Linked DNA regions of Homo sapiens: all the other regions are linked to region 4. Evidence: fine-mapped expression QTL. A gene starts in region 4. Each other region holds a variant in brackets. All regions are shown on one strand. Distances are between the middles of the regions.

Region 1 (5,106 bases), 43 kb before region 4:
CCTCTATTCTTCATAGATCACTTATAACCATCTATACAATACACACAATTACACTTACAGATTTTTCAGTGTTTTTCATTATATAAATAACACAATGTAACCACAAAACTAAGCCTGGTAGATGTGTTCACGTTCAGGAGGACTGCTCCATTTCTCAATCTTTTACAACCAGATCTTAGTATCATTCTGAATTATTCTCTGGAGTGTACAAATTATTTCTAATCATTGTCCTGTTCTCAGCTCTTGGACCATTCAATGCTGTTGACCCGCTTTTGGAAACCCTCAGTCTCCACCTCTTGGCTTCTGTCACTCTGAATCTCCTGGTCTTCCGTCATCTTTCAGGCATCTCCGGGCCTTTTCTGTCTTTGCTTCCTTGCCCTATACTGGCCCTCACCTCAACATAGGCTACAATTCCTCCTCCCGTAAAGGGCCTCTCCATTCAGTTTGATATCCATGACTTAAAAGCCCCATGTCTCTTTCAGGAACCCTAATTCTGCATAGACATCTTTCCACACAGAAGTCCAATTTATTAGGTAAAAGTTTTTTCTGCTCAAAGCCTGCTGTGGCTCCCACTATCTCTAGAATAATACCCGAGCATCAAGCAGAAGAGGAAATATGTGAACATTGAGAGATGAATACATCAAGAAGGGGGCAGGAGAAGAGCTTTTCCATGAGGAAGGAGTAGCACATGTGGCATGGTTTGTCTGTGACCCTACACAGATCTCATCTTGAATTGTAATCCCCATAATCCCCACGTGTCTAGGGAGAGACCTGGATCTTGGGGGCAGTTTCCCCCATGCTGTTCTAGTGAGTGAGTTCTCATGAGATAGGATGGTTTTATAAGGGGCTCCTCTCCCTTCACTCCTCACTCTGCTCTCTCCTGCTGCCATGTGAGAAGGTCCAAGCTTGCTTCCCCTTCGCCTTCCGCCTGATTATAAGTTTCCTGAGGCTTCCCCAGCCATGTGGAACTGAGTCAATTAAACCTCTTTCCTTTATAAATTACCCAGTCTCAGGTATTTCTTTATAGAAGTGTGAAAACAGACTAATACATCATGCAAAATCTGGGAGCCCCAAAGCAGATGGTGCCTTTGGGAAATGGTGGCTTGGCTGGAGCCAGGAGCCAGAGGCAGAAAGCTGCAGGAGCAATGAGAGATCAAACTGCAAGATAGGTTGGTCATGCTAAGTTCATGAGCACTATGCCCAGGTCAGTAGGAAATGATGAAAGATTTTCTTTTTTCTTTTTGTTTTTGTTTTGGAACCAGAGTCCTGCTCTGTTGCCCAGGCTGAAGTGCAGTGGCACGATCTTGGCTCACTGCAATCTCTGCCTCCTGGGTTCAAGTGATTCTCCTGCCTCAGCCTCCTGAGTAGCTGGGATTACAGGCGCCCGCCACCATGCCCGGCTAATTCTTGTAATTTTAGTAGAGACGGGGTTTTTCTGTGTTGGCAGGCCTGGTTTCAAACTCCTGACCTCCGGTGATCCGCCTGCCTTGGCCTCCCAAAGTGCTGGGATTACAGGGGTGAGCCACCGCACCTGGCCTCAATGAAAGACTTTCAAGAAGAGAGTGTCAAGATCCAACTGGTACACATCTCAGAAAGTGACAAGAACCCTTAGGCATACAGACACTCAGTAAAAACTTACTGAATTAAAGTGGTTTACCAAAAACTAAATCCATCTGGGAATCTCATGCATGCAGACATCATTGTTGCCACCATTACAAGGGCAGAATGCTGGCGTGTCTGAAAAGATGACTGTTACTCTTTTTGCTTCAGGATGGTAGTTTCTTGGTCCGAGATTGTTCCACAAAATCCAAGGAAGAGCCCTATGTTTTGGCTGTGTTTTATGAGAACAAAGTCTACAATGTAAAAATACGCTTCCTGGAGAGGAATCAGCAGTTTGCCCTGGGGACAGGACTCAGAGGAGATGAGGTGGGTATAACTTAACAGCCTCCCTGTTCCAGGCTAAGCGCAACAAATAAAGGAAGAGTTTGGGGGATGTCACCCTGGAGGAAGAGGATGCCGCCCTGAAGGAGAGGGATGCAGTCTGACCTCCCCACCCCTTCCACAAATATCTGCACATCTTACACTTTGGCCTACCAGGCCAGCGACCAGTTCTGACCATTTCATGCACCCCCATTCCCTGCGTTGCCTGTTAAAGAAAACTCATTCTACAAGACACATCTAAACTCTGCCTCCCAGGAAGCTTCCAGCGGAGCATACACTAATGCCAAATTCCTTTCCCTCCTCAGCACTGAAATGCCACTGCAGACATTTCTGATGTCTGTCAGAATTCCTTATCTATAGACTCGTGTCCCCAAAATGAATGTGAACCCAGCCACAGCATTAGGGCTATGTTGGGCATGCCTGTCCTCAGTACAGATCTGCTGATGGAGGCGAAAGAGTGAATCAATTAAAATATTCGTGAATAACATAAATCAATCCACAAGAAAGGATAAATTTTCACTGACTATGTA[T/C]ATGCCAGGCCTAGTCTATCTGCATTTTTTTTTTTTTTGAGACAGAGACGCACTCTGTCACCCAGGCCAGAGTACAGATCTCGGCTCACTGCAACCTCCTCCTCCCAGGTTCAAGTGATTCTCCTGCCTCAGCCTCCTGAGTAGCGGGAATTACAGGCATGCCCCACCAAACCCGGCTAATTTTTATATTTTAGTAGTGATGGGGTTTCACCATGTTGGTCAGGCTGGTCTCGAACTACTGACTTCAGATGATCTGCCTGCCTTGGCCTCCCAAAGTGCTGGGATTACAGGCGTGAGCCACTGTGCCCAGCCAGCAGTATCTTATTTTGATCCTCAACAACTCTTTGGTGTCATGATTTTTCCTATCTTAGATGTAGGAAAACTGGGGCTCAGAAAATTAAATAAATGGCCAAAGACACACAGGCAGTAACGGAAGGGGGAAGGAGAGGCTTCTCTTGCAACTCTTCTGTTGATGAAGGAAGGGGTAAAGGAAGGAAGGAACGAAGTTAGTTATGAGCCACCATTTCTAAGGATGTGAGCTCAGTCCAGTGACTTAACTTCTCTGGGCTTCAATTTCCTCAAATGTAAATGTTCTTTTAAAGCCTAGACTTCAATAATTTAATGATTCCTGTTTAACATCTCCAGGTCTCAGTTTTATCTGGGGGTGTGCATTGTTATAGGCTGAATCGTGCCTCCCTCATTCCAAAAAACCCACACGTTGAAGTCCTAACCCTCAGTAGCCCAGAATGTGACTGTATTTGAAGATAGGGCTTTGAAAGAGGTAATTAAGGTTAAACAAGGTTATTGGGATGAGTCCTAATCCAATATGAGAGATGTTCTTATGACAAGAGGAGATTAGGACACAGGCACACACAGAGGGGCGACCATGTGAGGACACTGGGAAGGGTCGACCATCTGCAAACCAAGGAGAGGGGTCGTGGGAGAAAGCAGCCTTCCAACACCTTGACCTTGGGACTTCAGCCTCGAGAACTGCGAAGAAAGACATTTCTGTTGTTTAAGCCACCTTGTCTGTAGTGCTTAGTTACGGTAGCCTTGACAAACTAATACAGGATAAAACCAGAACTTTCACACAGATACCGATTGTTCTTCAACAGATAACAAAATAGGGCACATTGCTAGGGCTGCCAACAGGCTTCAGGTAGGCACACGTGTGAAATCGATGCGCAGGCTGCATAAAGATTCCAGCTTAAATCCCGTGTCTGACCAGAGCACTTTTTTGAGACTCGGAGAGGAATAGTCAGCACCTGTGAGGCGACCATGAGGTCAGTTCACCACTGTTAGGAATAACGCTCAAAATCCTAAGGAAATTGAACACTCGAACAAAGGATTCTTAGCAAAGCAATTTTAGTTCTGCACAGAGGGGTGCCTCCTTGGACAGTCGCAATGAGAGCATACCTGAACAAAGGGGCACGAGAGCCTTTATTCCTGACACAAGTCCTGCCCCTGTCCCCTTTCCCCATTGGCTGGGGTCAGGTCTTACAATCTAAACTAATCCCAGTTGGCTAAACATTTGATTTTTTTTAGATAAAGTAGGCATATAAAAGAAAGTGGAGAGGAAGGGGAAGGGGTGTCTGTAATGAGCTAAAAAGTTAGTCCTCTTTCCAAATAAGGAAAGGAATGTGAGCTGGTACTGATAATGCCTGGTACTGTGGCGTGCCTGGGCATCTAACAAAGGCAAAAAGGAAAACAGGAGAAAAAGGACAAGGGTTGGGGGGGGGGGGGTACAATGAATTAAAGAATAAAAGTTTGATCGGATTATTTGAAGAGAATCTTCATCATATCCCACACCACCATTTGCTACAGCCCGGGAACACTGTGACATGAACAAGTGCATGAGTGAATCCATAGATTAATACATAAATCTACCAGGTACAACCACATTAAGAAAGTGCTACGTTAACACGAAAGACAGAAGTGGTCAGTTCTTCATTTTGTGGAGAGGATTGGCAAGTTAATAAATGTAAAACACTTAGAACAGTGCCTGGGACCTATCAAGCCCACAATAAATTTTAGTTATATTTTCATTACTATTCCTGAGTCATTTTAATAAGTAGGATATAGTAGCCCTAAGATGCCTATGGTAATGGACTTTCCAGTTCAGTGTCCCTTTATCCTTCTATATCTTCTCTCAGCTTATAGAATTTCTCATCTTTAGGAAAGCATTATATAATTCTTATTTATTTATTTTATTTTATTTTGAGACGGAGTCTTGCTCTGTCACCCAGGCTGGAGTGCAGTGGCGCGATCTCGGCTCACTGCAAACTCCGCCTGCAGGGTTCACGCCATCCTCCTGCCTCAGCCTCCCGAGTAGCGGGGACTACAGGCGCCCACCACCACGCCCGGCTAATTTTTTTGTATTTTTTTAGTAGAGACGGGGTTTCAGTGTTAGCCAGGATGGTCTCGATCTCCTGACCTCGTGATTCGCCCGCCTCAGCCTCCCAGAGTGCTGGGATTACAGGCGTGAGCCACAGCACCCAGCTTATTTATTTATTCTAAGACGGAGTCTCGTTCTTGTTGCCCAGGCTGGAATGCAATGGCGTGATCTTGGCTCACCACAACCTCTGCCTCCCGGGTTCAAGCGATTCTCCTGCCTCAGCCTCCCGAGTAGCTGGGA
Region 2 (5,102 bases), 27 kb before region 4:
GTTTAAAAGTATCACTTGATATCTGATTTCAATAGAGTAATAGAATTTTAGCTTTATCCAATTACAGCATTTATGCTTTCCAGATATTTTTTGGACTAAATAATTCTCATTCTGTATAAATGTGCATAGCCCTCATCATTAGTCATATATTGTGTTAGCACCTTTGTGTACTGCATGTGTATTCATTACTAAGCACTATTGTAGATGTTGAAAATAGAGCAGTGAATAAGAGAGATAGATGACAAATAAATATACAAACAAATAAGATAATCTAAGTCAGTTTCCCATTACTGGATTGGATTTCTATTTTAACACTTATTTCTGAGTACTTGTGGGGTGATGCCAACATTAAATGTTTTGAGGAAGCTCCTTTGAGATGGCTTTGAAAAGTCCTAAGTGAGAAAATTTAAAATTTTCCCAAACTTATTTATGTGGGGTGTGCATGTGTGTGCCTGTGCCTGTGTGCGTGTGTGTGTGTGTGTTTTTAAGTAACCGCATCATGGCTGTAATCAGTTAAGTCTCCTGTTCTAATTACTACGGAGGAATCAAATGAACCCCATTGTCGAATGTAGCCAATTATGTATGTGTGTACACAAATACAAATTTTTATGATAGCCTATATTGTATATTAGCATTATATTTGTATATCTTTTTTATTCTGAGCAATATTTGTTCTAGCTAAGCACATTTACATTCATAATTTACAGCCTTACTAATGTAAATAAAAGTAAATATGTAATTGAATGTTATAATTTTCTCTGTCTCTGAGTATTGAAGAAAGAAATTCAAAACATAGTTTAATTTTGTTTCATGCCCTATTACCCCTAAAGCTCTTTTGAAATTATATTTAGGGCAAATTTAGGATAAAATTACCAGAACAATTATTGACATATGAGCATTATGCTAGACTTTGGAGATAAAGACAAAAAAGACACAATCCCTGTGATTGTGAGCTCAGAGCCTGGCCGGAAAGATACACATGTAATAACCATCTTAATATGTGTAAGTTAATATCTCATTGTGGTTTTGATTTGCTTTTTCCCAATGATTAGTGAAATTGAGCACCTTTTCATATGCCTGTTGGCCATTATCAAAAAACAAAAGATAACAAATGTTGGCAAGAATGTGGACCAATGGAAACCCTGTACATTGTTGGTGGGAATGCCAAATGGTGCAGCCACTATGGAAAACAGTACTGGGTTTCCTTAAAAAATTAAAAATGGAACTATTATATTCAGCAATCCCACTTCTGTATATGTATCCAAAATAAATGAAATCAGGATCTTGAAAAGATATCTGCACACCCATATTCATTGCAGCATTATTCACAATTATTCCAAGATATGGAAACAACCTAAATGTCCATCAAAAATGAATAAATGGGCCAGGGATGGTGGCTCAGGTCTGTAATCCTAGCACTTTGGGAGGCCAAGGTGGGCAGATCACTTGAGGTCAGGAGTTCGAAACCAGCCTGGCCAACATGGTGAAACCCCGTCTCTACTAAAAATACAAAAAAAAAATCAGCTGGGCATGGTGGTGGGTGCTTGTGATCCCAGCTGCTCGGGAGGACGACACAGGAGAATCACTTGAGCTCGGGAGGTGGAGGTTGCAGTGAACTGAGATCATGCCACTGTACCCCAGCCTGGGAGACAGAGCAAGACACTGTCTCAAAAAAGAAAAAAAAAATGAATGAATCAATGAATGAACAAAATATGTTATATACATACAACGGAGTATTATTCAGCCTCAATAAAGAAGGAAATCTTGGCATATGTGACAAGGTGGATGAATCTGGAGGACATCATGCTAAGTGACATAGCCAGGCACAGAATGACAAATACTGCATGACTCCACTTATATGAGAAATCTGAAATAAACTCACAGGGACAGAGAATAGAATAGTTGTTGCCAGGAGCTGTGGGGAGAGGGAAATGGAGAGTTGTTGTTCAATGGGTATAAAGTTTCAGTTATACTAGGTGAATAAGTACTAGAGAGCTGCTGTATAGCATTGTGCCTATGGTCAACGAAAATGTATTACCTACTTAAAATTTTTTTAAGAATGTAGATTTCATGTTAATCATGTTAAGTGTTCTTACCACAAAAAGGGAGATGGGGCAGCAGGAAATGTTTGGAGGTGATAGATATGTTTATTGCCTTGAGTGTGATGATGGTGTTATGGATGTATGTGTATCTCGAAACTCATTAAATTAGATACATTAAATATGTCCAGTTTTTTAATATACCAATTATACCTCAATGAAGCTGTTTTATTTTTATTTTTATTTATTTTTTGTGAGACTGAGTCTCGCTCTGTCACCCAGGCTAGAGTACAGTGGCGCGATCTCGGCTCACTGCAAGCTCCGCATCCCGGGTTCACGCCATTCTCCTGCCTCAGGCTCCCAAGTAGCTGGGACTACAGGTGCCCACCACCGTGCCCAGCTAATTTTTTTTGTATTTTTAGTAGAGACAGGGTTTCACCATGTTGGCCAGGATGGTCTCAATCTCTTGACCTCGTGATCCACCCGCCTTGGCCTCCCAAAGTGCTGGGATTACAGG[C/T]ATGAGCCACCGTGCCCTGCCATTTTTTTTTAAAGCTCATCAGCTATCATTAGTATTAGTGTATTTTACGTGTGGCCTAAGATGATTCTTCCAGTGTGGCCCAGGTAAGCCAAAAGATTGAACACTCTACTTCAGGAGTACAGGCATGTTGCCCATTATTGGGTACTCCTGTTTTAGGGGCACTATTCTAGGCCATGGGGAATGAAGCAGTGACTACCTGTTTGAAGGGTAAGTGAATACAATAGAAGCAGCATCTGTAGAGAAAGGACAGATAATTTATTAAGTGGTTCTGGTTAAACTGGCTCACCATATAGAAAAAATACAATTATGTCTCTACCTCAAATCATATAAAATATATTTTACATGAATCAAATACTTAAGAGCAAAAAGCAACTATTAAATTGAGTCTTACATCTTTGTCTAATAATTTTTAAGACTTTGAGATAGGGAAAGAGTTCTTAAGACAAAAACTTAAATCATCAAGGGAAGGATTGATAGATTCATTACACCAAAATTTAAAATGTTTACAAAAGTTAGACAAAGTCAAAAGGCAATTAAACAACCTAATATGTATGAGCAAAGGCTGTAAACAAGTAATTCATACACACTCACAAAGCTGGAATGTCTTAACTTATGCACTCCTGTAAGTTAAGAAAATTAATAACAATTAAGTACAATTAAGAAAATTAATAGGCCGGGAGCAGTGGCTCACGATTGTAATCCCGGCACTTTGGGAGGCCAAGGCGGGCGGAACATGAGTTCAGGAGATCAAGACCAGCCTGGCCAACTTGGTGAAACCCCGTCTCTACTAAAAATACAAAAATTAGCCGGGCATGGTGGCACGTGCCTGTAGTCCCAGCTACTTGGGAGGCTGAGGCAGGACAATTGCTTGATCCCTGGAGGTGGAGGCTGCAGTGAGCCGAGATCACGCCACTCCAGCCTGGGTGACAGAGCGAGACTCCATTAAAAAAAAAAAAAAGAAAACAAAACAAAAGAAAATTAATAAACAGCTAGCTAAAATAATCAAAAACTTAAGTAGAAGGACACATTACTAACAAAAAAGACAAAACAACAGATACTACAGACATTGAAGGGATATTAAAGAACTATCAGAAGTGCTTTTATTCCAGCGGAGTCGAAATAGATAACTTTACAGATGAAAATCAATACAAGAAGAAATAGAAAATTTGAATGGCCCTTCATTGTTAAAAGAAACGAGAAGCTTTCCCACGAAAAAGTCTCTAGACCAAAATGAATCCTAGCAAACCTTTTTAGAAACTAATATCGAGTCAGGTGAGAAGCAAGCAGAGCTGGTGTAGAGGCTTCTTCTCCCAGAGGGGCCTCAAGAGAGAAGGGTTAGCGATGGCATCCTTGATTAGAAAGATCACACAGGCCTGTAAGTTAAGATATCCAGCTTTGCTATTGTGTTTCTATTACAGCTGGTCGGTGATGCAATTAACAGGGGATGCCAATAGCCACTGTCATGGAGCGAATGACATGGAGCCTAATGGAGTGGATGACATAGAGCCTAATGGAGCAGAGTGGGAGATGGGGTCTGGCTTCCCTGGTCCCTAACCCCTCAGCACTAGACAACGGACCCACACAGAGGGAATTTCAGCCTGAATGCTGAGAGGCCTGAAGAGTGAGCAACCCCCATGAGAATGGCAAATGGGCTTCCTGGCTACCTATTTGTGATGGTTAATACTGAGTGTCAACTTGATTGGATTGAAGGATACAAAGTATTGATCCTGGGTGTGTCTGTGAGGGTGTGGCCAAAGGAGATTAACATTTGAGTCAGTGGGCTGGGGAAGACAGGACCGCCGTTAATTTGGGTGGGCACCATCTAATCAGTTGCCAGCATGGCTAGAATATAAACAGGCAGAAAAATAGGAAAAGAGAGACTGACCTAGCCTCCCAGCCTACATCTTTCTCCCGTGCTGGATGCTTCCTGCCCTCAAACATCAGACTCCAAGTTCTTCAGTTTTGGAACTTGGACTGGCTCCCCTTGCTCCTCAGCCTGTAGACAGCCTATTGTAGGACCTTGTGATCATGTGAGTTAATACTTAATAAACTCCCCTTTATATATATATATATTTGTGTGTGTGTGTATACACATTTATTCCATTAGTTCTGTCCCTCTAGAGAACTGGGACTAATACAGATTTTGGTACTGGCAGTCCATAAGATGAAAGTAAAATGAGCAAATGAACCCTAGAACATTCCTCAGTGCTTATTGGGAGGCCTGGCAAAGGATGATTACCCAGAAGACTCCCCAGCATTTCCAGGCTTCATGTGGTTCTGACAGCTACTTCTACAATAGCAGCCAGAGAAACGTTAATTAAAATAGCAACTACATAGCACTTTCACCCATCACACTGGGTGAAATTAAACATTCAGATAATGTCAAAAGCTGATGAGGATGTACAAAATAAAATTTTCATCTACTAGTTGGAACATCAATCGGTATAGCATTTTGGAAAGCAATTTAGCAGTATTTAGTAAAATACAAAATGTATGCACCCACTGTAATAAGGCTTCCAATTAAA
Region 3 (5,106 bases), 31 kb after region 4:
CCATTGCCAAGATCTCCTTCAGAAGTACTTATATTTCTCTACTTAAGACCACAGCCAGGGGCAGAACTAGTTTTTTGAGGTGAGGTGGACATTTACACAAATTTTGGACCCTCCTTCAAATAATAAAAAATTGGCTGGGTGCAGTGGCTCACTCCTGTAATCTGAGCATTTTGGGAGGCTGCAGTGGGTGGATTGCTTAAGCTCAGGAGTTCAAGACCAGCCTGGGCAACATAGTTAAACCTCGTTTCTACAAAAAAATAAAAATAAAAATAGAAAAAATTAGCAGGGCATGGTGGTGCATGCCTGTCGTCCGACCTACTCAGGAGGCTGAGGTGGGAGGATTGTTTGAGCCCAGGAGGTGGAGTCTGCAGTGAGCTGTGATGGCATCACTGTACTCCAGCCTGGGTGACAGAGCAAGAACCCATCTCAAAAATAATAATAATAATAATGTGGGCTGGCAAGATGACCAAATAGGAACAGAACCAGTTTGCAGCTCCCAGCGAGATCAATGCAGAAGGCAGGTGATTTCTGCATTTCCAACTGAGGTACCCGGCTCATCTCACTGGGACTGGTTAGACAGTGGGTGCGCCCACAGAGGGCAAGCCAAAGCAGGGTGGGGGCGTCACCTCACCTGGGAAGCACAAAGGGTTGGGGAACTCTCTCCTAGCCAAGGGAAGCTGTGAAGGACTGTGCTGTGAGGAACAGTGCACTCTGGCCCAGATACTATGCTTTTCCCACGGTTTTCACAAGCTGCAGTCCAGGAGATTCCCTTGGGTGCCTATGCCACCAGGGCCCTGGGTTTCAAGCACAAAACTAGGCGGTCATATGGGCAGACACTGAGCTAGCTGCCGGAGATTTTTTCATACCCCAGTGGTGTCTAGAATGCCAGTGAGACAGAACCATTCACTCGCCTGGAAAGGAGGCTGAAGCCAGGGAGTCGAGTCAAGTGGTCTAGCTCAGTGGATCCCACCCCACGGAGCCCAGCAAGCTAAGATCCACTGACTTGAAATTCTTGCTACCAGCACAGCAGTCTGAAGTCGACCTGGGACACTCGAGCTTGGTTGGGGGAGGGGCATCTGCATTACTGAGGCTTGAGTAGGCGGTTTTCTCCCTCACGGTGTAAACAAAGCCACCAAGAAGTTCGAACTGGGAGGAGCCCACAGAAGCTCAGCAAAGCCACTGTACCCAGACTGCCTCTCTACATTCCTCCTCTCTGGGCAGGGCATCTCTGAAAGAAAGGCAGCAGCCCCAGTCAGGGGCTTATAGATAAAACTCCCATCTCCCTGAGATAGAGCACCTGGGGGAAGGGGCAGCTGTGGGTGCAGCTTCAGCAGACTTAAACATTCCTGCCTGCTGGCTCTGAAGACAACAGCGGATCTCCCAGCACAGTGCTTGAGCTCTGCTAAGGGACAGACTGCCTCCTCAATTGGGTCCCTGACCCCTGTGCCTCCTGACTGGGAGACACCTCCCAGTCAGGGAGGTGGCATCTGGCAGGTGTCCCTCTGGGATGAAGCTTCCAAAGGAACAGGTAGCAATCTTTGCTGTTCTACAGCCTCTGCTGGTGATACCCAGGCAAACAGGGTCTAGAGTGGACTTCCACCAGACCTGCAGCATACGGGCCTGACTGATAGAAGGAAAACTAACAAACAGAAAGGAATAGCATCAACATCAACAAAAAGGACATCCACACAGAAACCCCATCTGAAGGTCACCAACATCAAAGACCAAAGGTAGATAAATCCACGAAGATGAGGAAAAAACAGCACAAAAAGCCTGAAAATTCCAAAAACCAGAAAGCCTCTTCTCCTCCAAAGGATCACAACTCCTTGCCAGCAAGGGAACAAAACTGGATGGAGGATAAGTTTGATGAAGTGACAGAAGTAGGCTTCAGAAGGTGGGTAATAAACTCCTCTGAGCTAAAGGAACATGTTCTAACCCAATGCAAGGAAGCTAAGAACCTTGAAAAAAGGTTAGAGGAATTGCTAACTAGAACAACCAGTGTAGAGAAGACTGGTAGAGATGACTTGATGGAGCTGAAAAATAAAATATGAGAACTT[C/A]ATGAAGCATACACAAGTATCAAAAGCCGAATTGATCAAGCAGAAGAAAGGATATCAGATATTGAAGATCAACTTAATGAAATAAAGTGTGAAAACAAGATTGGAGAAAAATGAATGAAAAGGAATGAACAAAACCTCCAAGAAATATGGGACTATATGAAAAGACCAAACCTATTTTTGATTGGTGTACCTGAAAGTGACAGGGATAATGGAATCAAGTTGGAAAACACCCTTCAGGATATTATCCAGGAGAACTTCCCCAACCTAGCAAGACAGGCCAACATTCAAATTCAGGAAAGACAGAGAACACTATAAAGATACTCCTCGAGAAGAGCAACCCCAAGATGTATAATCTTCAGATTCACCAAGGTTGAAATGAAGGAAAAAATGTTAAGGGCAGCCAGAGAGAAAGGTCGGATTACCCACGAAGGGAAGCCCATCAGACTAACAGCAGATCTCTCTGCAGAAACCCTACAAGCCAGAAGAGAGTGGGGGCCAATATTCAACATTCTTAAAGAATTTTCAACCCAGAATTTCATATCCACCCAAACTAAGCTTCATAAACGAAGGAGAAATAAAATCCCTTACAGATAAGCAAATGCTGAGAGATTTTTGTCACCACCAGGCCTGCCTTACAAGAGCTCCTGAAGGAAGCACTAAATATGGAAAGGAAAAACCGGTGACAGCCACTGCAAAAACATACCAAAGTGTAAAGACCTTCAACACCATGAAGAAACTGCATCAACTAATGGGTAAAATAACCAGCTAGCATCATAATGACAGACCAAATTCACACATAACAATATTAGCCTTAAATGTAAATAGGCTAAATGCCCCAATTAAAAGACACAGACTAGCAAATTGGATAGAGTCAAGACCCATCAGTGTGCTGTATGCAAGAGACCCAACTCACATGCAAAAACACACATAGGTTCAAAATAAAGGGATGGACAAATATTTACCAAGCAAAGGAAAAGCAAAACAAACAAAAAAACAAAACAGCGTTTGCAATCCTAGTCTCTGATAAAACAGACTTTAAACCAACAAAGATCGAAAAAGACAAGGGCATTACATAATGGTAAAGGGATCAATGCAACAAGAAGAGCTAACTATCCTAAATATATATGTACCCAATACAGGAGCACCCAGATTCATAAAGCAAGTTCTTAGAGACCTACAAAGAGACTCAGACTCCCACACAATAATAGTGGGAGACTTTAACACCCCACTGTCAATATTAGACAGATCGAGACAGAAAATTAACAAGGATATTCAGGACTTGAACTCAGCTCTGGACCAAGTGGACCCAATAAACTTCTACAGAACTCGCCACCCCAAATCAACAGTATATACATTCTTCTCAGCACCACATCACACTTACTGTAAAATTGACCACATAATTGTATGTAAAACACTCCTCAGCAAATGCAGAAGAATGGAAATCATAACAAACAGTCTCTCAGACCACAAGGCAATCAAATTAGAACTCAGGATTAAGAAACTCCCTCAAAACTGCACAACTACATGGAAACTGAACAACCTACTCCTGGATGACTACTGGGTAAATAACGAAATTAAGGCAGAAATAAATAAGTTATTTGAAATCAATGAGAACAAAGACACAAAGTGCCAGAATTTCTGGGACACAGCTAAGCAGTATTTAGAGGGAAGTTTGTAGCACTAAATGTCCACAGGAGAAAGCAGGATATATCTAAAATCGACACCCTAACATCACAATTAAAAGAACTAGAGAAGCAAGAGCAAATGCATTCAAAAGCTAGCAGAAGACAAGAAATAACTTAAGATCAGAGCAGAACTGAAGGAGATAGAGAAATGAAAAACCCTTCAAAAAAATCAATGAATCCAGAAGCTAGTTTTTTGAGGATTAACAAAATAGGTAGACCACTAGCCAGACTAATAAAGAAGAAAAGAGAGAAGAATCAAACAGACACAATAAAAAATGATAAAGGGGATATCACCACTGATCCCACAGAAATACAAACTATCATCAGAGAATACTATAAACACCTCTATGCAAATAAACTAGAAAATCTAGAAGAAATGGATAAATTCCTGGACACAGTCACCCTCTCAAGACTAAACCAGGAAGAAGCTGAATCCCTGAATAGACCAATAACAAGTTCTGAAATTGAGGCAGAAATTAACAGCCTACCAACCAAAAAAAAAAAAAAGCCCAGGACGAGATGGATTCACAGCCAAATTCTACCAGAGGTAAAAAGAGGAGCTGGTACCATTCCTTCTGAAACTATTTCAAACAATAGAAAAAGAGGGACTCCTCCCTAACTCATTTTATGAGGTATTATCCTGATACCAAAACATGGTAGAGACACAACAAAAAAAAGAAAATTTCAGGCCAATGTCCCTAATGAACATCAATGAGAAAATCCTCAATAAAATACTGGCAAACTGAATCCAGCAGCACATCATAAAGCTTAGCCATCACGATCAAGCAGTCTTCATTCCTGGGATGCAAGGCTAGTTCAACATATGCAAATCAATCAATGTAATCCATCACATAAACAGAACCAATGACAAAAACCACATGATTATCTCAATAGATGCAGAAAAGGCCTTCAATAAAATTCAACACCCCTTCATGCTAAAAACTCTCAATAAACTAGGTATTGATGGAACATATCTAAAAATAATAAGAGCTGTTTATGACAAACTTGCAGCCAAAATCATACTGAGTGGACAAAAGCTGGAAGCATTTCCTTTGAAAACCGGCACAAGACAAGGATGCCCTCTCTCACCACTCCTATTCAACATAGTATTGGAAGTTCTGGCCAGGGCAGTCAGGCAAGAGAAACAAATAAAGGGTATTCAAATAAGAAGAGAGGAAGTCAAATTGTCTCTGTTTGCAGATGACATGATTGTATATTTAGAAAACCCCATTGTCTCAGCCCAAAATCTCCTTAAGCTGATAAGCAACTTTAGCACAGTCTCAGGATACAAAATCACTGTGCAAAAATCACAAGCATTCCTGTACACCAATAATAGAGAGCTAAATCATGAGTGAACATCCATT
Region 4 (5,106 bases):
CTGAATGGGCATTCATACATGGTCGGTTTTTTTTTTTTTGGTTTTTTTTTTTTTTTTTTTGAGACAGAGTCTTGCCCTGTTGCCCATGCTGGAGTGCAGTGGCTCGTTCTTGGCTCACTACACCCTCCGTCTCTTGGGTTCAAGCAATTCTCGTGCCTCAGCCTCCTGAGTAGCTGGGATTACAGGCGCCCGCCACCACGCCCAGTTAATTTTTGTATTTTTAGTAGAGGCGGGGCTTCACCATGTTGGCCAGGCTGTTCTTGAACTCCTGACCTCAGGTGATCTGCCCGCCTCGGCCTCCCAAAGTGCTAGGATTACAGGCATGAGCTACTGCGCCCAGCCCAATACATGTTTTGTTGAATGCATGAGTGAATGAATGAACGTTGGCTCCCAAATCTTATACTCAAGGACTGGTTCATGTCTTCCTTCTTCTCTCCTACATTAGGTAGTCATAACTAGGAGGGTGCATTGATTTCTTAGGGTGGCTGTACCAAACAAACATGTATTGTCTCACAGTTCTGTCGGCTCAGAAGTCTGAAATCAAGGGGTCCACAGGGCCATGCTCCCTCTGAACCCTCTAGGGGAGGATCCTCCCTGCCTTTTCCATCTTCCAACAGCCGTTGGTTTGTGGCTGTGTACTCCAATCTCGGCCTCTGTCCATGGCTTCTTCTCCCTGTGTGTCTCCATGTCTTCTCATGGCATTTTCTTCTCTGCGTCTCTTCACAGAGACACAGAATGGTGTCCCTTGTAAGGACACCATTCACATTGGATAAGGGCCCACCCTAATGACCTTGTCTTACATCTGTAAAGACCGTGTTTCCAAATAAGGTCATATCCATAAGTTGGGGGTGGGGGATATTAGCGCTTCAACGTATTTTTCTGGGAAACATAATTCAACTCGTGACAGAAGTGATCCACGGAATTTAGGCAAACTAAGCTGGGGGGTGGAGAAGAAGACATGAAGGGCAGACGTGTAGGGAACGTGTGATGATTCACATTTGCAAGCATCAAAAGACTTTTAGGGACATCAGCCTTAAAGGTTTCTGCTGAAGTAGTTTCTATTTTTCCTTGACCCTTTTTCAGGCTGTAAACACTCCATTTCCAGACACTCCACAAAGCATTTCATCTCCCTGAATTTGGGCTACTGAAGAGTAAGTTAACAGTCACTTCTATCTGCCAGGGACTGTGATAAGTCCTGACTTGCTTTCTCTTGTTTAATGTTGACAACCCCCTTGGGAGGAAGGACCTATTTTTCACTGAATTTTACATGAGAAACTGAGGTTCAGACAGGCTCACAACTTCTATGTGGCCGAACTGGGATTTATAACCAGTTCTCACTTCAGAAAAACTCCCAGGAGACCCACAGGTACCTTACATCAATTCTGTGTGACTTAAGAGGGCAGAACTGTGATGCATGAGTAGAAGTTATAAGGAGAGTTGCCTCTCCTTATAAAGTTTAGGACAATTTTCTAATGTCTAGACCTCAGATTCTCCAATACTTAGAATTAATAGTTTTTCCTGATGTGGCTCTGTTTGCCACTAGAGATTTTCAGGCAGTGGCTCCTAGTTTGGATTCTCAATGCCTTTCCCAACTTGACCCTACTCTTGAGGGAGACTTTGAACTCTCTGGCATATTCTCTCTGATAGGTGCTATCTGCACATAAATGTGTTTTTCTGAGAAGAGGTTCCTTAGCTTTTCTGAGCCCTAGGAGATAGAAAACCAGGACCCTAGCAGCTCCCTGATCAGGACCGAGGTTAGGAGCACTGCAGCCTAGGGCAGGAAGAAGGATTTGCTCTCTGGGCTGCTATTTTCTCTGCCCAGCTCCTGATACTTTAGTGGTGGAGGTTTTGCCCAGCTGCTGGACTTGTGGCTGAGCCTGTCTTCTTCAACTCCGCTTCTCCGTGTGGCAGTACTGCCCAGGCCCACATCTCCTCCGTGCAGCATACTGGCCGCTGTCCGTGCACGCCGACCTTTGGCCGCCAACAGGAAGGTGATGGAAACCAGCCTTGCCCCGCCCCCGCCTCCAGAGCTTTGAAATAAACTTTAGCTGTTCATCCCGAAGAAACTGTACTTCCCAGTGACGCTGCTCCCATGCCTCAACCTGCCCCTGCTGGAGAGCTGTTTCACTTTGTGGGGAGTCACTGATTGTGCGGGACCTGGCAATATGGTCTTCTTCTTTCCTCTTAGAGGCTCTATTCTAAATATGTCTTCCTTCCGGACCGTAGATGCAGGTGTATCTAGAGGGCAGTTGGCTCGCCCAAAATAGCACCGAAGTCCAGGAGGCAGGAAAGAAACTCTGGCATTAAATGAGCTCACACCCTCTCCAGACTCCCACAGTCATTGTCCCCTCTGACCCTCGCAACGCCCAACTGCTAGAGGAGGCTTTGCGCCTCACATACGACCTTCCCCGTCTTCAGAAATGAAGACACTGAGAGAGGTCAGGGGACTTTCTCGCCAAGGTCCAGCAGCTAAGATGTAAAGGAGTAGGGAGAGTCAGGATTTGTACCCAGGACTTCAAGGCCATCTCCTTCACTGAAGCTCTCCAAGAAGACGAGTTTGGAGGCTGAGGACCTGAGCTCCTCTTCTCTCGCTTTCACTCACCCACTGCAGGACTGCAGGCTCCAGGGAGGCAGGCGCCAAGGCCGCCCTCCGCGGGACCCGGTACAAGGCAGGCGCCCCGGGATGGCAGACTGGGCCAGGACCGAAGCCGAATCCTTCTTTTGCCTGCGGCATGGCTAAATGTGGACCTCGCTCGCTACGGTGCGAACGTGTTGGGTCAAGCTCTAAGCCCAGAAGTGGGGCTCGGCTGGGTCTGAGGCTCCCCGCTCTGGACAGCTTAGAAGCCCGGCGGGGGCGGGCGCAGCCTTAGAGACCTCAGGCGCCGGCCTCGCTGGAGCCGCGCCGCCGCTTCACATTGCGCACGCGCGGGGCTGGCGCGGGCTCCGCCCCCCGGGTAGGGACCTACAGCGGGCGCGGCGCCGGCGGTCTGCGGCCGGCGGTGTAGACGCCCCTTCGCCGGGACCTGGCACCCGAATCCGGCCTGCCGGGTAAGTAGCTGAGCGGGAGGGCGAGGGCCCCCGGATCCGCGTGTACGTGACCGAAGCGCCAGCTGCGGCCGGGTCGTGGGGGCGCGCGGGGCGGGGGCCTGACGGGGCCAGGCCGGGGCGGGTCGAGCGGCCGCGGCCCCGCGTGCCCGCGCTGAGGGCTGGCGTCGTGGCAAGTGGCACCGGGTAGGCCGAACGCGGGCTCCGGCTGGTGGGCGTGGGGCACCGGCTGGGGTGGGGGCCCGGGCCGCGGCTTGGCGCGCGTTGAGCAGGTACGCGGGCCTGGCCTAGGGTCGGGGTCCGGCCCGGCGCCCCCAGCTCGCCTTTGTGCGCCGCGACCCCGCGGACTCGGCCGACGCGCCGGGGCGACCGAGGCGGGGGTGGCAGCGTCCCGCGGGGCCGTTCGTGTGGCGCCGCTGGCCCGGCCTGCGCTCCCCGCCCCCAGCGTTATGAAGGATGCCTCCTCCGAGGGCTCCTACCGTCCGCGCCGAGCAGGAAGTGTCGTCAGGAGGCCATTTTTAAAGCCTCCTGCGGGCCTCGGAGCTGAGCGTTGACGGTTTTGGTTTTCTTCGGTTGGAAGAACCCCGGCCTTCCCTCGCGGCGAGCGGGACGCGCCTGGGAGACGACGATGCGCCCGATGCACCTGGCCTCGTCCTCCGAGCGCCCAGGCTCAGGCGCGCTCGCCTCGGATGCTGCCTGCCATCGGGGGAGCGTGCCGACAATAAACTCGAAAACCAGCCTGGCATTGTCTTTCCTTGAGAGGGTCAGGGGTGGGCTCGTCCATCGAGGTCCTGCGCATCTTTTACGGGGGGCGAGGACATAGGAGGTTGAGAAGAGATGGTGAAGGTTTGAATTGTTCCAAATGCTGATGTCATTGTGGGACCTCCCCATACCGGCCTGCCCGTCTTATCTTGGTGTCTTTGGGGTTTGGGGCTCTGTAAAGCCAAGAAATTGCAGGGTTCAAAAGAATGAAAGTTTCTTAACCAGAAAGGAAAAGCCAAAAGAGCGAACGGGAGAAAACACTTAAGTCTTTATAAGTTGGGTAGTTAATGTATCCCGTTACAATACCTCTGACTTTAAAAATTGTAATAATGAACGATTTATCAACGTAACATTAAAAAAAAAAACTACAGAGCATTATGTCCTATTTAAAAGTACAAATCTACGTAGCTAAACTCTAATGTTGTGTTAGACTCTTTAAACCATCTTAAGTTTAGACTTGAAATCACCAAGAATTAAGACAAACCTGGGTCTCTAGAAGCTTGCAGTACTCTTCTACAGTAGAGCAGAGACTGAGGATGGGAATACATCTCTTTTCTCTCTCTTGAGTCACATATGCAAAGTTCAGCCCAGCATATGATGTCAGTACACAGCCAAGGGTTCAGAAAATATTGTTTTAGAAACCAATGTTATATACTGTTGTCTCTTTGAGTAGAATACAAATAGTTCTTTTTTAAAATTGTGTGATATTGATATCTTTAACTAGGATGCAATTTTTAAAAGTTACTTTCATCTTGGATCAAATTTAGCCTTCAAAAATAACACTTTTTTGCGTAGACAGTTTGCTATGCTGATAACATTCATTGCAAATGCAATTTGAAAAGAGCAGACAAAGGATGGCATTCCTTTATTTATTGGGACTCCTTTCTGATGTATTATACCCGATCTGAAGATCTTAAAAATGCAAAATGGCAATTAAAAAAATCCATTTAGATCTCTAGAGATTTATTTGCCTTTAAGTAAGGGCATCGGGGCCAGTTTTTGTGCAAAAGGAAGAACAAAGAACATTTTATTTTTGTCTCTGTGAAGCCTGCTCTTTCATTCATTCATTCACTCATTCTTTCAACCAGTACGAACCTTATTGAGTGCCTTCCTTGGCCAAACCCTTCGCTATTGATCATGATAAACAAGATCCTTACCAGGGAGGGTTTCCCCAATCATGATTGTTCTCAAACTGCCTGCTGTCTACTGCATTTTCTTTGTTATGCAAACTCAGCTAACTGCAATTTCCAGGATTCATCCTTGGAGTGAAAGCAGCTACAGATCAGCCAGTCTAAACAT
Region 5 (5,106 bases), 41 kb after region 4:
CTAGTTTCTATATATTAAAGTTCCAACTTGTCACATTTATGTAGTATTAGTAGATACTAAAATAATTCATAGAAAATTAGTATACATATTTAGAAATAATTATTGCAAATAACATACCAAGTTCTTCTTATACCTATTTTTTTCTTCTATTTAACTGCTTTGACTAGCACATTCAGAACAATATTAACTACTACTAGTTATTCAGAAGGCTGAGAAGGTAGGATTGCTTGAGCCTAGGGGTTTGACACTGGCCTGGGCAGTATACCAAGACACATCTCTAAAAAAAAAAATTAAAATAGCACTACTAATATCAAATCTAGTGTTAGTACTAGTAAGTATCAGATTACTTTTGGTATTTCACTCTAATCCAGGCTTATTGCTTTGGGTGGAGGAATCTGATTAGAAACATATATAACTTGCTAGATATTAAAATCCATATTCCCATATGTACTTAGGTCTGCAGGTAAACGTACTATTCTATACAGTTATTTTCTTTTCCTGTATTACATTCTCAATTATTGAACTTTATAATAAACTTTAACATCTACAATCTGATAATTACTTTTTGGGAAGGGTTGTTGAGTTTTTTTTTCAAATGTCTTTCACATTGTAATGATTATATGGGAGTTTTTTCCTCCTTGGGGCTATTAATAAAGTAAATCATTGAACCATCCTGAATTCCATTTAATGATTGTATTATTGATACCATTCCTGTTGTTACTATTGATACTATTATACCCAACAAAATATAGTTTATACACATGTTCCTAGTGGGCCTCCTAATATTTTACATTGATTTAGAGATTTGATACTCAAAGCATTAGTTCCTTAAAATTAATGGCAAACATGTCATTCCTACATAATTCAGTAGCCAGCCCTTTAAAAAAGATATTTTTCTTACATAAATCAAAATATTATACCCCCAAAATTATGAATAACTCTTTGTTATTGTCTAATACCCAATCTATATTCAAATATCCCTAATTGTCTCAAAATGTATTGTTCAAATTAAGATCTAAACAAAGTACTTGCATTTCATTTGCTTATTTTCTTAGCTATCTAACTTGGCTCTGGATGCTATCTGTAAACAGCACAAGTAGTAACTGAATTTGAGGCAGGTGGTCTGAGGCTAACTTCATATGACTTGCAAGAAGCCTACAGGAATGCCTTGAGCCCCGCAAGAAATACAGCTGTCTTTGCAGATTAAAGTCCTGGCCTGCAAATTTGGCTAAGAAACAAGAAAAATAGCAACATCCACCAAAGTCAAGTCAGCCGCACTGGAAAGATTTGCCTCTTTGGAATGGAGCCTTAACCAAAGCTCAAACACACTTTTCCTATTATTTTCGCCTGAGCCGTCCTTTGCCAACGGAATGACTACACATGCCCGAGTCAGTTCAGGTCAGTGCTAGAGCATCACAGGGCCCTGCTTCCTAAGTCCTAATCAGCTTGACCAAGTAGAAACAGTTGTTCATCATGAGCAATGGAGAAAGATGCTTCCATGATCCACCAACTGCTCTTGTACTAATATTTGAGGTTTGGGGCCCTGGCAAGGCCCAAAGCCTTGATCTGACTCCTTATTAGTTGTGTTCCCAGCCACCAGAATTTCTCTCTCAACACATCTGGCCAATGGATCAAGATCTTACAAGATATTAACATTAGTTAGCTGATACGGTTTGGCTGTGTCCCCACCCAAATTTAATCTTATAGTTCCCATAATTCTCATGTGTCATAAGAGGGATCCAGTGGGAGGTAATTGAATCATGGGGGCAGTTACCGCCATGCTGTTCTCATGATAGTGAGTTCTCATGAGATCTGATGGTTTTATAAGGGGCTTTTCACCCCTCTTGTCTCTTCTCTTTGCTGCTGCCATGTGAGGAAGGATGTGTTTGTGTCCCTTTCTGCCATGATTGTAAGTTTCCTGAGGCCTCTCTAGCCCTGCAGAACTGTGAGTCAATTAAACCTCTTTCCTTTATAAATTATCCCAGTCTTGGGTATTTCTTCGTTTCTTCATAGCAGCGTGAGAATGGACTAATACATTAGCCTTCAACATTTTTTTTTTTTCTTAACTCGTGTTCTGTCACCCAGGCTAGAATGC[A/T]GTGGTGTGATCATGGCTTACTGCAGCCTCGACTTCCTGGGCTCAGGCAAACCCCCTACCTCAGCCTTTTGAGTAGCTGGGACTACAGACATGCACAGCCATGCCTGGCCAATTTTTTGCACGTGCACGTGAGTGTGTGTGTGTGTGTGTGTGTGTGTGTGGAGATGGGGTCTACATTATGTTGTCTAGGCTGGTCTGGACTTCCTGAGCTCAAGTGATCCTGCCATCTCAGTCTCCCCAAGTGCTGGGATTACAGGCATGAGCAATGGGCCTAGCGCCTTCAACTTTTCTGTCTACTCCCAAATTAGGAAATCAACCAAGGAATAACACAGAAGTCAGACGGAGTTAAATACCTTAATTTCATTTCTGGCAACTAGATTGGAGAACACAGTTGACACATGTGGTCATAATAAGCCTCTTGAGATTTCACATGCTATAGATAGCTGCCATCCAGTCACTGAGCCTGCAGGACATCAAAGTCTTCTTTACAGAATCAGCGGGGCCCTGTTAGTGCCCCACAAAAGGGAGTAGGAGACAACACACATCCTGTGGGTTGGGGGAACCCACAAAAGAATGATCACCCTGGTGAGCAGCCACACAGGCTCAGCTCATTACCCAAACAGGATGGGACCCCTTTACTCCTCCTCTGAGCCAAAGCAAAGTTCACAAGGAAGAGAGCTGGAAGTGCTCTTCATATACTTCTGGATAGTAGAACAGAAAGTCCCTTCTCCATGTAAAAATGTGAGGAATGCGGGTAATAAAACCTTACGGGAAATAAAACCTAAAAGGGGAACTGGCAGTGACATGTTAGGACCACTCTTTTCAGTTACTAGGTGTACACAAAAAAAAGTGTTAGGTGCTCCTGTGCGCCAGCACTCTGATAAGTGTTACATGGACCTTATATGATTTTCTCCTTTCAATAGCACTTAAGGAAAATAATCTCCCCAGGATCACCCAGCTAGTGAATGTTAAACTTCTTGAGTCCTGGTTGCTCTGCCTATAAAAAGGACAGATTCAACCATTTCCAAACTCACTGCTTTTTCATATAAACCAAGCTAGCCAGGTGCAGTGGCTCACACTTGTAATTGCAGCTGCTCATGAGGTTGAGGTGAAAGAATCACTTGAGCCCAGGAGTTTGAGACCAGCCTGGGCAATATAACGAGACCCCATATTTAAAAGATAGAATAATAACCAAACCACTTTTGGAAGTCTGACTCATGAAACAAACTAAGCTAACCAGCCTTTTCTCCTGGGCATCTAGTTCCGACTCAGTAACTCCTAGACTTTGTAACTACCTAAGCACCATGTATTGACCATCTATTCCCACAGGATTGGGGTGGGGGTGAAAAGCAGAAAGGATGGTAAAAACTGAGTATTTAACATTCCCCTAGACTCTGTTTTTACAGAAAGCTATAAATCTTCGGCTGGGCCTAGCTAATGTGTTGTAATAAAAGGAGATGTTGATTCGATTTTTACAATCCATCATTCCAAGGCCAGAGAAAAACAGGAAAAGAGATGCTTTTCTTGGAAGGAAGAGAACGTTTGTCAAATTGTTTCTACTTACTTGTATTCACACATCCTGTCTCTCCTAATATCTCACCTGTCAGAGACTAACAGGATAAAAGCAGACAGGTAGAATGGCTTTAAATTATGTGTATTGAGAAAAATAATGAAAAACAGCATGCAAAAGAATTCAAGGAAATTAACATGGTTGCTGCTTAGTTCTCTCCTGCTCCCCACTGGAGGCTGAGGAGGAAGATAACATTTCTATTCAATTCAATCCAAAAATTGTTAGGAAATGGAGATGCAAACATTATGACATGGCCCTCAAGGAACTCAGAATAGATGAGAAGGTAAGTCTGATACATATGCTAAGAGCAATGAGAGTGATGAGCCTAGGGTAACAGATGCAGACTCCCCCACCCAAGGATGCCTTTGGAAGAGATGATATCTGAGCCAAGTCAGAGGTTGTGCAGCAGTGAGCCAGCAAAATGAATAGTGGGACAAAGTCAGCAATAAGAGCATTCTAGGCAAAGGAAATACAAACAACAAAAAAATGTCCAACATCTACCAGGCCTTGCTGCCTTCTGATACTGTCTTAAGTGCTTTTCATGCAATCTTAACTCAGATGATACTGTGCTCAATGAAACCGCTACTATCAGCATCCCTATTTTTCAAATCTAACAATAAGGCTGTAAAAGTTAAGTAGCTTGCCCAAGCAGTAGGTGGTACACATCAGAATGAGGATTTGAACTCAGGTCAGTATGATTCTAAAGCCTCATTTTTTAATAGCAACAAGCTACACTGCTCTCCCAAAGTGATGAGCAAAGGTACCAAATGTGGGTGACAGCATATCACTAGTGGGTAATGACTACAAAGAGTGCTGTTTCCAGATGGTAATGTGGGAAGCAGAGAGCAGCTAAAGATACATGAAACTTTTTTTTTTTTTGAGACGGAGTTTCGCTCTTGTTGCCCAGGCTGGAGTGCAATGGCACAGTCTCGGCTCACTGCAACCTCTGCCTTCCGGGTTCAAGTGATTCTAGCTGGGATTACAGGCGCCCACCACTACACCCAGCTAATTTTTGTATTTTTAGTAGAGACGGGGTTTCACCATGTTGGCCAGGCTGGTCTCAAACTCCTGACCTCAGGCGATCCACCCGCCTCGGCCTCCCAAAATACTGGGATTACAGGCATGAGCCACCACGCCAGGCCACATGAAACATTTTATGTATCATGTGAAGAGACTGAATGTTATCCTGGGGTAACAGGATCTCAGAAGACGTTTAAACAGATACATGCCATGGCCAGATGTGTTTTATGTAAATTTATTCTCTTTGGTCTCACACCACAGTAACATGAGAGTAACAAGATCAGAGACAAAAAGACTAGTAAGATCTAATGGTAACCCAGGAAGGAGAGTGTATGAATGAGGATGGTGGGAGCTCAGATGGAGAAGAGTGAGACAATTTGAGAAATACTAAAGAACAGTAGGACTGGTGGATATAATGGGT

Direction of the effects. Positions count from the first base shown, and alleles are read on the strand shown. Sizes are in standard deviations (SD) of each study's normalised expression. Not every link is listed here.
With allele T in place of C in region 1, the expression in visceral fat of the gene that starts at base 2,939 in region 4 is lower (small effect, 0.20 SD a copy in GTEx).
For the expression in pituitary of the gene that starts at base 2,939 in region 4, allele A in region 3 goes with a lower level than allele C (small effect, 0.32 SD a copy in GTEx).

What was found. PIP is the estimated chance that this variant, and not a neighbour inherited with it, causes the effect. A credible set is the group of variants that fine-mapping cannot tell apart.
Region 1: its variant is the best candidate, but not a certain one, in a credible set for the expression of ZNF518B in visceral fat (GTEx, PIP 0.90).
Region 2: its variant is the best candidate, but not a certain one, in a credible set for the expression of ZNF518B in whole blood (TOPMed, PIP 0.59).
Region 3: its variant is the best candidate, but not a certain one, in a credible set for the expression of ZNF518B in pituitary (GTEx, PIP 0.54).
Region 5: its variant is the best candidate, but not a certain one, in a credible set for the expression of ZNF518B in whole blood (INTERVAL, PIP 0.56).

The regions. Positions count from the first base shown.
Region 1 is chr4:10,498,076-10,503,181 of GRCh38, reverse strand. It overlaps CLNK (cytokine dependent hematopoietic cell linker), which reads left to right. Exons shown (of 19, transcript NM_052964.4): 18 at 1,771-1,926. The region is part of intron 2 of LOC105374482 (a long non-coding RNA gene); the gene reads right to left. Among named protein-coding and RNA genes, the nearest start is that of ZNF518B, 43 kb to the right of the region's middle. The variant T/C (reference allele first, on the strand shown) is at 2,472.
Region 2 is chr4:10,482,042-10,487,143 of GRCh38, reverse strand. CLNK (cytokine dependent hematopoietic cell linker) reads left to right here. Exons shown (of 19, transcript NM_052964.4): 19 at 1-749. Among named protein-coding and RNA genes, the nearest start is that of ZNF518B, 27 kb to the right of the region's middle. The variant C/T (reference allele first, on the strand shown) is at 2,557.
Region 3 is chr4:10,423,880-10,428,985 of GRCh38, reverse strand. No RefSeq gene overlaps it. Among named protein-coding and RNA genes, the nearest start is that of ZNF518B, 31 kb to the left of the region's middle. The variant C/A (reference allele first, on the strand shown) is at 2,058.
Region 4 is chr4:10,455,259-10,460,364 of GRCh38, reverse strand. ZNF518B (zinc finger protein 518B) reads left to right here and starts at 2,939. Exons shown (of 3, transcript NM_053042.3): 1 at 2,939-3,048. RefSeq lists a silencer at 2,824-3,463 and enhancers at 3,594-3,753, 3,016-3,831, 3,814-3,873.
Region 5 is chr4:10,414,155-10,419,260 of GRCh38, reverse strand. No RefSeq gene overlaps it. Among named protein-coding and RNA genes, the nearest start is that of ZNF518B, 41 kb to the left of the region's middle. The variant A/T (reference allele first, on the strand shown) is at 2,096.